Regions from separate parts of the Homo sapiens genome. Here region 2 is linked to region 1. The links come from fine-mapping of genetic effects on gene expression. A gene starts in region 1. The other region holds a variant in brackets. All regions are shown on one strand. Distances are from middle to middle.

The links. PIP is the estimated chance that this variant, and not a neighbour inherited with it, causes the effect.
Region 2: its variant is fine-mapped to the expression of MLIP in sun-exposed skin (GTEx, PIP above 0.99). The same link has a PIP of 0.9 or more in esophagus mucosa and unexposed skin.

The regions. Positions count from the first base shown.
Region 1 is chr6:54,107,504-54,115,900 of GRCh38, reverse strand. MLIP (muscular LMNA interacting protein) reads right to left here and starts at 4,458. Exons shown (of 14, transcript NM_001281747.2): 1 at 4,326-4,458. The coding sequence starts at 4,421.
Region 2 is chr6:54,002,466-54,010,862 of GRCh38, reverse strand. MLIP-IT1 (MLIP intronic transcript 1) reads right to left here. Exons shown (of 4, transcript NR_046832.1): 3 at 8,144-8,249; 4 at 3,711-3,892. Among named protein-coding and RNA genes, the nearest start is that of MLIP-IT1, 7.8 kb to the right of the region's middle. The variant C/T (reference allele first, on the strand shown) is at 3,859.

The DNA of each region.
Region 1 (8,397 bases):
ATGGTTCTCTCTGAAGGACTCTATTTCAATGATAAATGTTTTCTCTCACACTCCTGCACCAATGGGCCTGGAAGTAAAATAGGTGTCCTCCTTGCTTATCTTTACTGCTTCCAGACTATTCTTCTCTCTTGTCTAAAAACTTCCAGCTTTGAATCTCATGTCATCAGTCTATACCCTTCACAATCTCTCTTAGCTGCAGTCATCTTTCCACACCCGTATTAAATGCTTCTTTCCTTAAAGATTCAGTTTCTGGTTCAATGCCACGCTTCTTAACCCAATGCTTTGTATAATACCCAGTATTATATCTCAATGGGTATTTTTTATAATATTGTATTTCCTTGACCTCTATTCTTCCTTGCCCCTCACATCCCTAGCCTTGCCCAATAGCTGCAAACCTTCCGTAATTTGTTTCTTCATTCTCTGACCATCACTTTTTATCGCTCCATACTATCCCCCTAGTAGTCCAACTCTAACATTTTTTAACTTCACCATGATTTAAATCTACTGATTCTTCCACAATTATTTTCCTACATTTGTCTTCTTAACCAGCTTCAAAAACCAAGTTGACCACAGTTACTCTTTTGGATACCCCTCAAATCCCTTGTCCTCCTTTATATCATCATCCTGTTTGAGTACATTACAGCCCTCACTAAGTCTAATCCCCTACCTACTCTATTTCTGAACCAGGAAGGTAAACATGCCTGGGGGAAACCACACAACCACACCTACTGATCTCACTTCATATTTACCACTCTGAGCCTCAAGAAGGCTTTTCAATGCTGCCCAACAATCGTACTATACTTCCATAGCCCATTCACTCTTCCACTGGCCTAGAAAACTCTTTCACACTTTTTCCCCTTTCTTCAAACCTCTAACATCTCTCCCACATTCTCACTTGGAGCTGATGACTTTGTTTCCTATTTCGTTAAGGTAACGGAAGCAATCAGAAAAGAATTTTCAAGGCCCCCAACACCACATTTATTCACACATCTGCATCTCTGCCCTTTTTTATGGCCTTCAGTCCTACTACTATGCTCCTAGTAAAACCAACCCTCACTGTAATACTTTGCCTTCTACTTACTTTCATTTATTCAATGAGGTATTATTAAATGCCTACTAAATGCTAGGCACTATTCTAGGGGTTGGTGCCATAACAGTGAACAAAAATCCCTACCCTCATGGAGTTTATATTCTAGTGGAGGGAAACAGACAGTAGACAAATAAATAAACAACATATGTAGTACTATTTTCATAAATGCTATGAAGACTTGCTATAAGTCTATTGCAATAACCCATAGGAGAAAAACTGGTGAGTTGAATGTAGTTTGCTGCAGTAATAGTGGTAAGAACTGTTAAGATTCTGGCTACATTTTAAAGACAAAACTTAAAATTTGTTGAAAAATTGGAAGTGGAATATGAGAGATACACAAAAATCAAGATGGGTAGACAAATTTTGAACTGAATAACTGCAAGAAATGAGATATTATTCACTGAAATGGGGAAGACAATAGTTGAAGCTGGTTTGAGAATAACGATCAAATTTTGTGTGCCCAATATACAACCAAGTGGAAATGTGAGTATGAGTCAAGTTTACAGGAAATTCTGTGCTGGGGATAAAATTACTAGGGTTGTTAACCCATAGATGATATTTAAAACCAGGAGACTAGATGAGATCAATAAAGATGTAAACACAAATAGAAAAATAAGAGGCTTAAGGCCAAACCCTACAGACTCTAACATTGAGTGATCCACCAGCTGAGGAAGAACTAGCCAAGGTGGCCTGGGCGTTTTAAGGAAGATTTTAAAAGGCTGAAACATCACTGACAGTAGTCAGAAAGAGGGCTGACCAGAAACAAAATTTCTCACAGTCTACACTGAGGAACCAGTCCAAATATAAATCCAGGAACAGTGAGGCAATTTGCTTGGCTGTTCGATAGTCTCTCAAGGAATGCTTTGCTGGTTTTGGCAGGATGTGGCAAGTATAAGGAAATTAAGGGTACTGGTGAGAGTAGAGCAAATGATTGACCATGGAGTTCAGTTTGTATAGGTAAGGAGGAAGAACCCTCAAGTTGAAGGAACTAGAGGTCTCTGTGCTCAGGAAACAGAGTTGATACTATGATGACTGTTTGAGAGAATGGATGGGGTCATAATATGATATGAGAGTTTATTAATTTAATAATTAGAAGTATGATAATTCCAGATGATTCTAAATTCCAGGCTTTGGCATTAAGACTGAGTATATGAAAGGAAGGGCACTGAGCTTGTGAAGATCAAGGAACTGTGAGACAAGAATATTGACAGGGTTTTAAAAACTTTTAATTTTCAATATTCTTTTCGCCTTTAAAGATATGTGTCATTATTTCCTCATTGTATCCATGTCAAAATACCTTATCATCAAAAAGTAATAAATCAGTGCTTTATATTGTAGGAAGGATCCCTTGTGAGATTTAAGGAGCCCACTTATCTATCAACAATACGTAATACAACAGGCCTTCTAGATGTATTATCTTCTAGGGCTGTTTCATCACATAACTAATCTCATCAATATCATGATAGAAAGGAGAGTGGTTTTGGCAAGGAAATTACTGAAGTAGTTCAAATAATCCATCCCATAATTTCATTTGAGTAAGAAATAAAGATAATCCTTTAGGAGTAAAGAGGTGAAATTGCAACTTTGTCCCCAGGTTCTGTAACTAGGCCTTCCCTTATCTTTCCATGTCATGACTATAGGTCTATCTTATGTTCCATCCAAATAAAATTTAAAAAATAATATATGAAAGTCTTCATTATAAGCACCCCATGGTTACAAAATACATATAACCATTATAAGCAGTAAGTAGCTTTACCTTCTAAAGCATATATAATGATGAAAATTTATTTCTTCAAACACCTTGCACAATTTGTATAATTCAATGCTACTTAAGTATCTAAGATACAAATACAGCTCCACAACTGGTATGTCACATGCTATGAACTTTTTAAAAGTTGACAGCTATAACTTTCAGTGAATAAAGTAGAAACAAAGTATGAATGAAAACTGATGCTTCAATGAATAAGGTATGCTTTTACAACGGTACTGCCTAAAAAATTTCTAAACATAACCACATCCTGACAATAAAGGCAACTGAAAAGAAGAAAACCTATTTCTTTCTAATTTATTGTTATATTTTCCTAAAGAAACATCCATATCCTACATAAAATTTTCTCACCAGTGTAAGGAAACAATTTTTTTTTATTTTAGTTGAACCAGTACATGATGTGATTCCAGAAAACACAGAAACAGGAAATCTAATAAAACTAAAGACTTATTCATCTTCCTGAGTTACTGTTGGAGAATAACAAGATCAGACATAAATTCCTGTCCACATACATATCTTCAGAAGAATAATCACAAAAAGGGCAATCATTTGGTATTCGCTTTTAAGCTAACAGTACAATATTAGCTCTTTTCACCACCTTTACCTAGCATCCTTAACTTACCAAGGATCTAATACTCATTCACAAGGAATTTCAGTTGGAAAAGAATTTGAAATTACACCAACTATGCAATGCAACATTCAGATAAAGAGCCACATATTAGCCAGTAGACTATTTAATCCCTTGTTTAGGAGAGAACAAAAAAATATTTGCTGTTTACTGCATACTGTGGCTAAGTTCCAATGTAGCCTAAGAATGAATTGCTATGGTGATGAAAAACCATTTTCCACACAAAGCAGCAACAGATGCATGTTAACAGCATTGCACTTGTTAATTGCCAATTAACACTTTCAGTTGTCAATGTTATTTAAATATCTTAGTTTCTATCCTTGGGAAACTAATTTAGTCATAGAAATATGAGATAAAAGGATTAAAATCTTTTTCTAAATACACTTTGAAATGCTCAAAATCTCTAAGAACGTCATCTTCTCACCGGATAGCCTAATAATTTGAGAAACTGTTTTCCCGCATGCCACGCAGGCTAACAGCTCCTTTGCTCAGTTTTGGGCTGTAATGCCTTCCTTTCTTATATTTCCCTAAAAGTTCTCTTCCTTCAGATGTTGACACCCACACTCGCAGATGGCCTCTAGCCTCCTGTTAAGGCATTACAGGGTATCTTACATTATCACTGTGCCAAGGGCAATCCTGAGCATTTTCTTTGCCCAATGAGCAGTTTTGTCTTTATCAGCTCACCCTTTTCTCTAAGTGAAGATAGCATTTCATTTCAATATACATACAAATTTATCTTCACTGGGCAGCTCTCCCTCACATCCTTGCAGCAAATACCACCAGCACCGTACACTGCTTTTAAAAGTTACTGAAAGCATTAAGCAAAGACTTCCTTTTACCTGGGGTGTGGTCTGAATGCTCCCTGATAAGATGCACGAGGTCATTTGGAAGTAATTGTTCCCGCAGTCACTCAGAAGCCCCTGTTCTGAAAGCATTGATTCATCACATAAGGGAGCGAGCAAACCAATGACTGAGGTGGGAAGGGAGCCTCATACTAAAACAACACACACACACTCACGCAGAAAGAAGAAATTCTAAAAAGAGGTAAAGCAGAGTCATTCCAAAATTGAGGAATTGTGTCAGCTCCGAAGAGTAGATTTCTGTTTTGACAATTTTTAGATTTGGAACATTATGAGAGGTCATACTAACTGCTGAAATGGAATCAGTAGAAGTGAAAAAAAGAAAAAGAAAAAGAAAAAAAGCCACTGATATGTGTTTTCCCTCTTTTCTTTTCATGCATGTATTCCAATTATATATTCTGTGAAAAGAAGAGAAAAGCCAGATTGTGCAGCAATGAGAAGCTGATTGAAGGGCGCTAGCACCTGCCAATCTCAATAATCAGTTGGTCATGCTCATAGAGAACATTTAGAGGTATAAATACATGCAAACACTGTGTCCAAATAAAGAACTAGAAAACACACAGTTATTTCAAAATATCAGTAACTTTATCCTTAGTATATAAATTGTAAGCAACAATACAGGAGCATCTGTAGTGACTGAAGTTATGTTATTAACAAAATCACCTCTAAAATAAAGCTTGGAATCAAATCCTTGTCAAAACAGAATTTCATTCCAAGGTTCCTGGAAGACAGTGAGAATCCTGACTGCAGACAAACCTTAAAACTTCATATGTGAAATTGATTGGAGTCTTCAGCTTTCAGTACTTCTATTTTCTAAGTATTGATTTTTCTCCAAATCTGTAATATCTACATTTGTGCTTTGGCAGTGAAAAGTGTTGTATCCAAAGGACTAGATATAGATCAAAGGCTATGGGAAGGAATTACTATTTTAGAAACCTAGATTATGCCTCTTCACATTTTCGATGTTATCAAAAGCCTGAGATTATGGAAACATAATGAGTAAAATAATTGCTATAAGTGATTCTATTAGCACAGTGGGAGGAACTATTCCAAACAACACAGACCTAGAATATGATCTAAATTTCTGAATATAAGTGCCGTGTTATAAAAAAAACTATGAGCCTTCTTCTATTTTACACATATTTATGGATACTCAAAAGAGAATATAAGTGCCTCTTGCCCTCAAAAAGCTAATGGTTTGAGAATATAAAACAGGTAAACAAATAACAAAGATACAAAGTGAAAAAAGAAAACAAGAAAAAGCCCTATACTGGCCAGGCGCCGTGGCTCATGCCTGTAATCCCAGCACTTTGGGAGGCCGAGGCGGGCGGACCACAAGGTCAGGAGATCGAGACCATTCTGGCTTATATGGTGAAACCCTGTCTCTACTAAAAAATACAAAAAATTAGCCGGGCGTTGTGGCGGGCAGCTGTAGTCCCAGCTAATCGGGAGGCTGAGGCAGGAGAATGGCATGAATCCGGGAGGCGGAGCTTGCAGTGAGCCAATATCGCGCCACTGCACTACAGCCTGGGCGACACAGCGAGACTCCGTCAAAAAAAAAAAGAAAAAGAAAAAACGAAAGGAAGGAAGGAAGGAAGGAAGGAAGGAAGGAAGGAAGGAAGGAAGGAAGAAAGAAAGAAAGAAAAAGAAAGAAAGAAAAGAAAGCCCTATACTGCAGTTCTTCTTAAACTACTGCACACATAAATCCCCTGGGGAGCTTGTTAAAATGCACTTTCTAAGTGTGGAGATCTGAGATGTGGCCTCAGATTCTGCATTTCCAAGAAGCTCCTAGTAGATGCCCTGGGAGCCACACCCCAGATCTGCTGCTGGTGTGTTACACTTTGAGTAGCAAAGACAGAGGAATTTCAGAGAACGATGTTACAGCCACCTGGAGGGCAGTAATTCAAGATGGTGGCATTTGGGCTGCACTTAGAAGAACGGGGAAAGGGAAACTATGAAGGTGGGATGGAATAGCAAGTATTTCAAGCAAAGAGAGAGGGCTGGATTGAAGGCACCTATCGGGACAGCAAGAGCAGTAAGTCATAAAGCACAGGACCCTGGAGCCACATCATCCACTGGCTGTGGGCCCTCAGACAAGTTACTGAACTTTTTAAAGGCTCAGTCCTCTCACCTGTGAAATGTGGATGAGAATAGCTCTCATTTCACAGAGTTCTTGTGAGGATTACAATTAAATTCAGCATGTAAGATTTCCACAGATTCTTAGCTCTGTGCCAGGCAGATTCTTAATACACGTTACTCCTGTGGGTATTGTTGTTTTCTAGTTTTATAAATAACATAAATGAGAATAAAGGCAAGTAAGACAAAAAAAAGTAGGTTAAATGTAGGTCATCAAAGATCTTGAATTAAGATGTTTTAGCTTTATTCAGTGAAGAACAGAAATGGAAATATTCATATATATATGAATATATATGTATGTAAATATATATGTATTTATTGATACTACCCTTTGGTGTTTTGATTTATATATATAAAGACATATATATATATGAAGACATAAAATTATATATATAAATCAAAACACCAAAGGGTAGTATCAATACATCTTAGAGATCACTCTTATCGCAAAGTTCTAGTGTGGTTCTCCAAGAAGAAGTGACAGTCCAGATTTTTGTCAGTGGTCAATCAGTTTATTCCAGGTGGATTCAAACGCTATGAAACTCTTCTTCTATGTCTCATTCTGTCCTTTCCTCTCTGATCTTTTCTTTCTCTCATTCTCTCCCACAAACAGAAAGCAATATTTATGCAAGTTGGCATAATCAAATTTAGAAGAGAAAATACTTCAGCCCCTACTCTTCCCTGCTCAGATTCTTTCTTGAGTCATTTTACAACATGAAAACCAATTTATTATTTTGACATTTTTCTCTGTGTCTTATTGGTAACTTTCCTCTAACCATTTTCTTTCCCTTGTTTTATTAACTAATAATTGCTGTTATAGACTATTTCTTATAATACTAGAAGTCATAATTTTCACTTAAAAACACATAAATGGTCATGCATTATAACAGCATGCTTCAGCCATCTGGATAGTAACTACATATAGCTTCAAAGAGCACATGTATTTTGGATAATTTCTATAGAAACCATTCTGTATTTAAATAGAAAGTGATGGCACCTGGTCAAAAAATGGGTCCTAGTCTTGGATGACAAAAGAGCATATAAATTACCTGAGTGGAGAGGAGAAGAGAATCTATCCTCTAATTACAACAACTTTTCTATAGACAAAAAGTCATCTATGGTCTGCCCAAGACCCTTAAGCATTTTATAATCACAAACTTTTAATGATCTCTCTCCCACTAACAAACACAAACTGCTCTGTTGAATAATCTTTTTTTTGTTTTCACAGGAAAACAAAGTTTGTCAAAGCTTGCAATAGATGAATACAATCCAAAATTCTCTTTAAAATCTGGCATTATTGATGATAGCTGAAGCAGGCATCCGTCACCCTTATTACTAAACGGATATTACTGCAATACCTTTCAGCTGAAAGACTCTTAAGATATTGCTTTTAAAAAAATAATACAGAACAAATAATCCTCTTCCTGACATGGGAAACAAATTTGAGAAAAAAGAAATAGATTAGTCCACAAGTTTGCCAAGAAACATGTAAGTGATTAAACAGATCCAGCTGCCAAGGCTATTCAGACATCCATTTGTCTGTTTTTATGCCTCAGGCTTGATAACAGAAGGTACCAGAAGTCCCATTTATTTATCTTAATAAACATCTATTGAGTGCCAGTCACGATTCTAAGCTCTGAAGACATAAAATAATAAAGGCTTGGAACCTGTTCTCAGCATGGCTTATAGTCTCATTAAAGAGACACCTTCACTCGTGACGGGAGCAGTGAATGAAGTCAGAGGAGGATGACAAGTCACGTGCTGAACACAGACTGCATGGGCAATGCATGTCAGGTTGTTTTCGGGGAGATTTCACTCTTAGCTCCTGCACTCCTAGGTCCTATTTCTGGCAAACACTGGGACACTTCTGCTCAGCCCTTTTTCCTCTAAAAATGGGAATCATTAGGTGTTCGTA
Region 2 (8,397 bases), 110 kb after region 1:
ACCACTTCACAAGAACCGTAGTTGCTAAGTTCCCCCCAAAATATTTCTTTATAAGAATGTCTTAGCAATAGTGGGAATTTTGAGTCAAGTGTTGAAAGTTTTGCAACATATCCAACTATCTAATTTTTAGTGTACTGATGAAAATTCTTTAAGCTTCCCTAAGGACATAAGTGGTAACAGAGTAAAATGTTACTGAAAATTGAATTTATCTTCTATTATGTTGACTGGATTTTTTAAGTAAAATTAAAAGTCCTTCTGAAGTGAAATGTCCATTACTCCAGAGAAGGAAAGTCGGAATTATGCAATAGATGTCCATGACAAGGCTGAACAAACTCCACAGTCAGGCAGGACAATTGCCCTGCTTCCCAGCCACCAAAAAATGTCCAGAGAGGGCAGACTTCTGCTGAACCTTCCTCAGTTCCCACAAATTTTCTTCGCTAATTACTCTCAACAGAAGTGAGTCTGCGTTACCCCAAAGGCCACTACTTCAATGTCTAGCCTCTGTGCAAAGGGATCCAACTTTGGGCTATGGCCCATGTGGAAGTCCCATTTAAAGCATAGCCAGGGAAGAGACTCAGAATTTGAAAAGCAAATTATTGCTCATTTACTTGATTATCTGTGGAAAATATATCATCTCAGATTAGCTTTGTCATCCCACCCTGTAAATCATCCCACCTGCCTTCTATAGTGTATTTTTAAAAGAAGGAAGCTATCACAATTTATTTGCCTTTTGGGATCATTCACATTGTAACTCAGGGTTCCCTAGTAACTTGTAACTGTGGCACACTGAGTTTCTGCTGTTTCAAAAGGTTCCAGGAAGAAGCCCAGCTATAGCAAAACAAAAACCAGGTAAAACCAGAGGTGCCTGAGTTGGAGATGAAGTTTGGTGAACTCTCCCTATTACCATACTTAAAAACCCCACCTAGGGAGGAGCTTATTCACCATTTTCTATACCTGCAATATATGAAGAAGCATGATCAGGACTGTGCCTGCACTGCCTTTACCCTGCCTTTCATACAATGACTAAGCCAACCAGCCTAATGAAAGCCCTGCTCTCATCTTCCTTTGGAGAGACACACTGCTTTGGGAACTATCCCCAGTGTTCTCCTTACTTGTTGCAAGTAACAAAAATCCCCTTGGTAAATCCTCCTTGGTTGTGGTCATTGGGTTAACACCTGCCAAGCGACCAAAACCATCCATTGTGTGGGTCACACCACTACTCTCTTTCATGATTTGCACTAGTTGAGTTGATTGATGTTGGTGATTTCTAAATGAATGCTTATGCAAAAAACAATGTTATTTTAGGACATTATTCGATTATTTTCTATCCAGTTCAATAATTTGATAATCATGGGTCGAGTATGTCAACATCCCTGTGTGGACACTGACAGCTTTCAGGAGTTGAACGCACAGTCTACTGTCAAGAATTTAGTTAGAAATGAACAGAATTGTATACATCACAGCAGGCTGAATGTGCTAAGTGCTAAGTTAGGAATATAAATGATGTGCTTTAAGAGCCAAAGAAACAAAAGACGATTCTGTCTGGGGACATTGTTCATGATTTCACACAGATGATAGATTTGAGCTGGGCTATCCTAATCCTTGCTGCTAAAAGTGATCTTTGGACATCAACATTTACATCATGTGAGAGCTTGTTAAAAATTAAAAACGTGAATCCCACCCCAGACATACAGAGAAAGAATCTGCACTTTAATAAGGTCTACAGGCTAATCATATGGGCATTCAAGTTTCAGAAGCACTGATTTATCTACTTTTAGAATGGCTAGAGATATAGAAAGAAGGACATGTCTGCGTACACAAAAATAATGAAAGCCAGTAGAAATAGAGGATTAATAGAGTATCTACAGAGGATTTACGTCTGTCACCTAACAGTAATGGGAAAAAAACACCACAACCACTTATTATGACCCAGTAACTCTGCTAAATGATTGATTATGCTATCTCATTTTGTGCTCTCAACAATCCCTTGAGCTAGCTGCATCATTTCACAGATGAGAAAGCCAACACTAGCAAGGGTTAAGTAATTTTCCAAGTCTACATAGAGAGAAAAGAGTAGATAGAGCCAGGATTCAAAACTAATATTTACTTCCAAACTAGACCTCTCAGCCACTACCTACTCTAAGCCTTGGATTTTCTCCACCAGGAACAAATCCCAGTCCTTATCAACACTCCCCTAGAGAAAAATAAGAGGGCCTGAAGCCCACAGGTAGAGCATCCCAGGCAGCCCACACTCTATTCCTCCTTCCATCCTTCTTTCTTTCTTTCTTAAACTTCCACATCTGTTGGAATAAGAAGGGAAGACTGACAATACTGTTTTGGTGACTAAGGTAATTATTTTTTCATTAAAAATAGAACTTTTGGGAGACTCTCTTGGGCAACCCCCTTTCTCAGCATGAGGCAGCTTCCTCTCCCTTTTTTTTTTTTTTTTGTCTATTAAACTTCCCGCTCCAAAACCCACCCCCAATAAAATAAAATAAAATAAATGTTTTATTTTATTACCAACTAAATTTATATATACCACAGAAATTTTGGAAAACACAAAGAGGTACAAACAGAAAATTTTAAATTATCTGTAAAACCACAACTCAAATATACCACAGTTAACATTAAGATATATTTCCAGCCGGGCGTGGTGGCTTATGCCTGTAATGCCAGCATTTTGGGAGGCCGAGGCGGGCGGATCATGAGGTCAGGAGATCAAGACCCTCCTGGCCAACATGGTGAAACCCTGTCTCTACTAAAAATACAAAAATTAGCTGGGCATGGTGGTGTGCACCTGTAGTCCCAGCTACTCAGGAGGCTGAGGCAGGAGAATCGCTTGAACCCGGGAGGCAGAGGTTTCAGTGAGCCAAGATCACGCCACTGCACTCCAGCCTGGTGACAGGGCAAGATTCCATTTCAAAAAAAAAAAAGATATATTTCCTGCCAGGCTTTTTTATATATTTTAATACTTTATATAATTAGTAGTGTACTGTCCATCCTGTTTTGTGACTTTTTTATTAAACAACACATTATGAACAATTTCCTTGTCATTAATGCTTTTATTCATGAGTATTCCTAAAGGTTAGATGGTGGCAATATAATTTTTGTCTGGCCTCGCCAAGAGTCAGGGAACAGAGGCTAGACAATGGCACAAGTGCAGAGAACAGGCTGGACACAACCCACCTTAATGATTGGTTCTTCCCTTTATCATTTTAAAATTGATATTGGTCACATTAAGTTTGTTTACAATAACAAATAACTGCATATTATAGGCAAATAAAATTATCAAATTTCCCAAAAGTAAGAAAAACAAAATCAGTGAAGCACTGTAATTCTACGTCCATGAATAATCTATGCTTCTTACTTGCTATAAATGGTGTGTCAGCAGGAGCTCTTGATAAAATATCTATTGTTTTTTAAAAATACATCAATCATTATGTACACTATAATATTCTAGTAGTAATACATGCTCACTAGAGATATTTCCAAAAACACCCAAAAGTAAAGCCATCTTATATAGTAATACTTGATTGCAGGAACAGAAACTGACTTGAGAATAAATAATAATAACACTGTATATTATAAGCCAGGCTTCATGAAGGCTACAACCAGAAACTGGAAAGTCATCATTAACCAGTTCCTCTGTTAGATCTCATGAACTCTTGTCTTTTTCTTTCTTTGTATATCTGCTTTTGTCTTATTTTCCTGAAAATCTGCTTTCTTTGTGCAAGTGGGAGAAGATGCCCGCACCTCCAGTCCAAAATGTTCATGTCTCTCAATCCAAGGCATGCATACAAACTGACTTGTTTTCTCTGAATTTCCAAGTCTAATTCCCAGAAGAAAAGATCCAGTTTG[C/T]CCACCATGAGTCAGGTGTCCATCATGATCCAATCTGCAACGGGTAGTGGGAGGTTAGAAGTGGTGGTAGGTGAGGAAGGGAGGAGGAGACCGGGCAGAGTCACATATTCTCAACACAAGGGAGTTGAGGAGGCATCATTAAAAGGGTCTACTAAAAACTGGGAAAACAAAAACAAACCAAAAATACAACTAAAAATGTTAATATTTTCCTGGATTTTATCCCAATCTGTTTTCTATTCTTACATTTAATAATATTTCCTTCTAGGCTTTTCTATATATAGTATATTTTAGTTGTGATAATGATGTATAAACTTTATACCTTAATATAAGAATTCTTCATATTACTGTAAAGTCTTGAAAAATATTTTAAATCAGCAAAGCACCAATTAGTCAATGTGCAATATTTTGTAACCATTCCCATTTCATTGGAAACTCAAATTATTTCCCATGATTTCAAATAAATCTGAGATCACCACCTTTGTGTACAGAAAGCTATTTTTCTATTTTGAATTACTTCATTAAAACTGACTTCCAGATGCTGAATTTTACCAGAGTAAAGATAACGAAAATTGTCCAAGTTCTTGATAGATACTGCTAAATTTCTTTCCGAAAGGGTTGCATGAATGTGTCTTTCACATATCCTCATCAGCATAAGACATTATTGTATTTAAAAATTTCCCATAGTTAACAATAATTTATTGTTGAAATAACTGAAAGAGTAGAATTGGAATGTTCTTAACACAAAGAAATAATAAACGTTTAAGGTGTTGGATATTGCAATTACCCTGATTTGATCATTACACAGTGTATGTTTGTATCAAAATATCACATGTACCCCATAAATAGTAAATATGTGCAACTATTATGTATCCATAAAAATTAAAGATCATCTTTTAAATTGCTATACTGGAAATTTAAGATAGAAGTAACATTTACTGGCTTTTTTTTTTTGAGACAGAGTCTCACTCTGTCACCAGGCTGGAGTGCAATGGTGCAATCTTGGCTCACTGCAAGTTCTGCCTCCTGGGCTTAAGAAATTCTCATGCCTCAGCCTCCAGAGTAGCTGGGATTACAAGTGTGTGCCCCCACACCTGGCTAATTTTTGTACTTTTAGTAGAGATGGGGTTTCGCCATGTTTGCCAGGCTGGTCTCAAACTTCTGGCCTCAGTGATCCACCCGCCTCAGCCTCCTAAAGTGCTAGGATTACAGGTATGAGACACGGTGCCAGACTTCAATGGCATTGTTAAAGCAACATGAGTATAAACATGGTTTCTTCTATGTAACTGTTGAGGCTTAATCACCACACATTGGCCAATTATCATTAAACCTCCTTTAGCAGCCAGGACTAAACGCACCATTCTTCCTTGGTACCACCCTTCATTCATCCGACAAACATTAGTTGACCACCTGTTAGCTGCCAAGCACTGTTTGAAACTTAGAAATAGAAATATATAGATATATGGTCCCTGTTCCTAAAGGTACTGTTACATGAAGGATGGCAGCCCTCATGGAAATAGACACAATAGAGAGGAATCACTGCATCCCACTCAGGGCTTCCCTGCATAGCCCTGGAACTCCCTCAGTGATACACACCCGACAGGTCCTCAGGTCAGTTCTGGTCCTTCAGAAAGTTCCAAGGAATGAGGGAGGGTAGCACTCTGAACACATTTCAACCACAAATCCCAGGCTTACCTAGCACTTCGCTTTTCCTGCTTAAATGAAAAAAGAATGGCTAAAAATGTGTTATAAGAATGGATGAGGCTGGGCGCAGTGGCTCATGCTTGTAATCCCAGCACTTTGGGAGATGGAGACAGAGGTGGGCGGATCAATTGAGGTCAGGAGTTCAAGACCACTGGCCAACATGGTGAAACCCCGCCTCTACTAAAAATACAAAATAACAGCCAGGTGTGTGTGGTGGGCACCTGTAATCCCAGCTACTTGGGAGGCTGAGGCAGGAGACTCGCTTGAACCCAGGAGGCAGAGGTTGCAGTGAACCAAGATCATGCCACTGCACTCCAGCCTGGGTGACAGAGTGAGACTCTGTCACAAAAAAAAAAAAAAAAAAAAGAATGGATGAGACGTTCCTTTGGAATTTATTCAAACATATCAAAGTTTTTTAAACCCAGCTATAACATCTGGAGCAGACAAAATCTACACTCAGTAGTAGATTCTTATGATCTCTCTTTTTCTCTCTCTCTCTCTCGCACCCTCCTTCCCTCCCTCTCACTGACTAGTTTATTAATATAAATGTTGCTCCCAATTTGAGAAGTTCATTGAGGCATAATTTAGAATTAATAAGCTCAGGCAATAGTATACAATTAATGTACTTCCCAAGTTAGGCAGGAGTTTAATGTCACCTCATAAAACCAAGTCTTTGTAATTATCGAAGTGCCAGCTGTGAACTGATCAGGAACACAATAGGAATTTTGTTAATTATCATTACCCAGAGGAAAATAATTAGTTTCTTTGTAGGGAGAATAAAAACAAATGTTGCTATTTTCATTTTAATTTCAACCACTGAAGTTGATAAAACTCAGAATTGGTCTACCAGTTTTGGTCCTCCTATTTCTAAATATTACAAACTCATTAATGCATTAGCAGATTGCATGTTAATCTTCATGTCCATAAATTAATTGGAACACTAGTCACTGGATAATTGGTACATTGTTTTTAGGGGGCATAAAATAACCGCCAAACCCCAAGGTAAAAAGGGCGACTGAAACACCTTTGGAGAGAATGATATAATCTAGCTTTCTTAAGACTTCAAAGCTTCATCAAAGTCTTCTTTAACCCATTATCTTTTCCTTTAAGCATGGCAAATTGACTTTCCTTCTCCCCTACACCTTGCAGATAAATCTCAAAATCATCAGATCAGAGTAACAGGGAGTATTTATTGGCCTAACTGAAGAACTTGGGTCCAATTGCAGCCTTCTCTTCTCTAGAGCCATCAGGCATGAGGACCCACTGTCCACTTCGGTTAGAAACCACACTGTCCATAGGGAATGCTATGTTTTGTTTGGAACACAGTATGGTACTTCTGAAATATTGAAGATAGTGCTAGGCCATTTGGGTAGCTCAAAAATGCAATAATGGCTGGGCACAGTGGCTCACACCCTTAATCTCAGTACTTTGGGAGGCTGAGGCAGGAGGATCTCTTGAGCTCAGGAGTTCAAGATGAGCCTGGGCAACATAGCAAGACCCTGTCTCTACAAAAAAAAAAAAAATTAAAAAATTAAAAAAAAAAAACTAACCAGGCATGATGGTGTGCATCTATAGTCCTGGCTACCTGGGAGGTGGAAGTAGGAATATCCCTTGAGCCCAAGGTGTCAGGGCTGCAATGAGCTATGACTGCACCACTGCAATCCAGCCTATGTGACACAGTGAGACTCTGTCTCTAAAAAAGAAAAACAAGCTAAAAGATGTTGAATGATTTATTGTTTTTAGATTTTTGGAGCTTTCAGGAAGCCTACAGATTACAAAGTGCAAGCAGACACAAGCATTAAAAAACAAGAATGTCAGGAATTCTGACCCTAGGGGCAGATAAGCAGTCACATCCTTTGCCCTAGGATGTAGAACTCAAGCCTAAACCTACAAATCTTGATTTTACAAATCCATCTCATGTCATTTTCATTCCATTAATTAAAGACATTTATGTGTCACTAAACGTCTTTCAACAGATCAGCTTTGCCGCATAGGTCCAAGTAAGAGCTTGGAAGAGAAAAGTGTTTGAGTCCAACGTCTATATTTAAGGCTTTTGGCATTTACTTACATTCTTTGGGCCTCAGTTTCCTATCAGAAAAATGCAGATAAGAATAGCAACTTTGCCACAGTACTGTTTAAGGGATGAAGTGCAAAAAATTATCACTATACATCAGTATTCTCTTTGTGGAAACTGCTATTCCTCTAATTACTCTATGTTATCAGTAGATGAACAAACCTGAACAACAAACCAATAGTCAAGTGTCCATGGAGAGAAATTATTGTTGCAATTGAGTGAAACAAGTTGGTGGTGTGATATATGTAATGACTTGCATCACTGCCATTGTGCTGCATACTAATTAGTTATAAATAATAAGCCATAGATATAAATGTCTATAATTAGTGTTGCTTTTACAGGAAAGTTCAATTTTTCATTTTTCTTTTCTCATTTTGTCCATTCTCCATATCTGTAATCAGCATCAACATCAGCAATTTTTCAAAGTACAGCTTCACTATAATCACTCACAGGAACAATCACCCACATTAAAAGATAAAGCCCCTTGCCCTTGAACCAAGATGTTCTTACTTCAATGCTAGGTGTTTCAATTCATGGTTCAACCAGGAACCTTCTCCACTGGGATTTGCAATACTAGAGGCAGTAAAACATCTGGACCATGAGGTCACTTCTTCTCCTTGGAAGGCAATGGAGGATTGTTCACAGCATAAAGAAAAAGAGGAAGCAAGTCAACATCTGTGGAGGCACTCACAGGTATTTGGCACTGCTAGATGCTTTTCAATTTTGTATCTACATCTCCTACCACCCTCATAAGATAACTATGA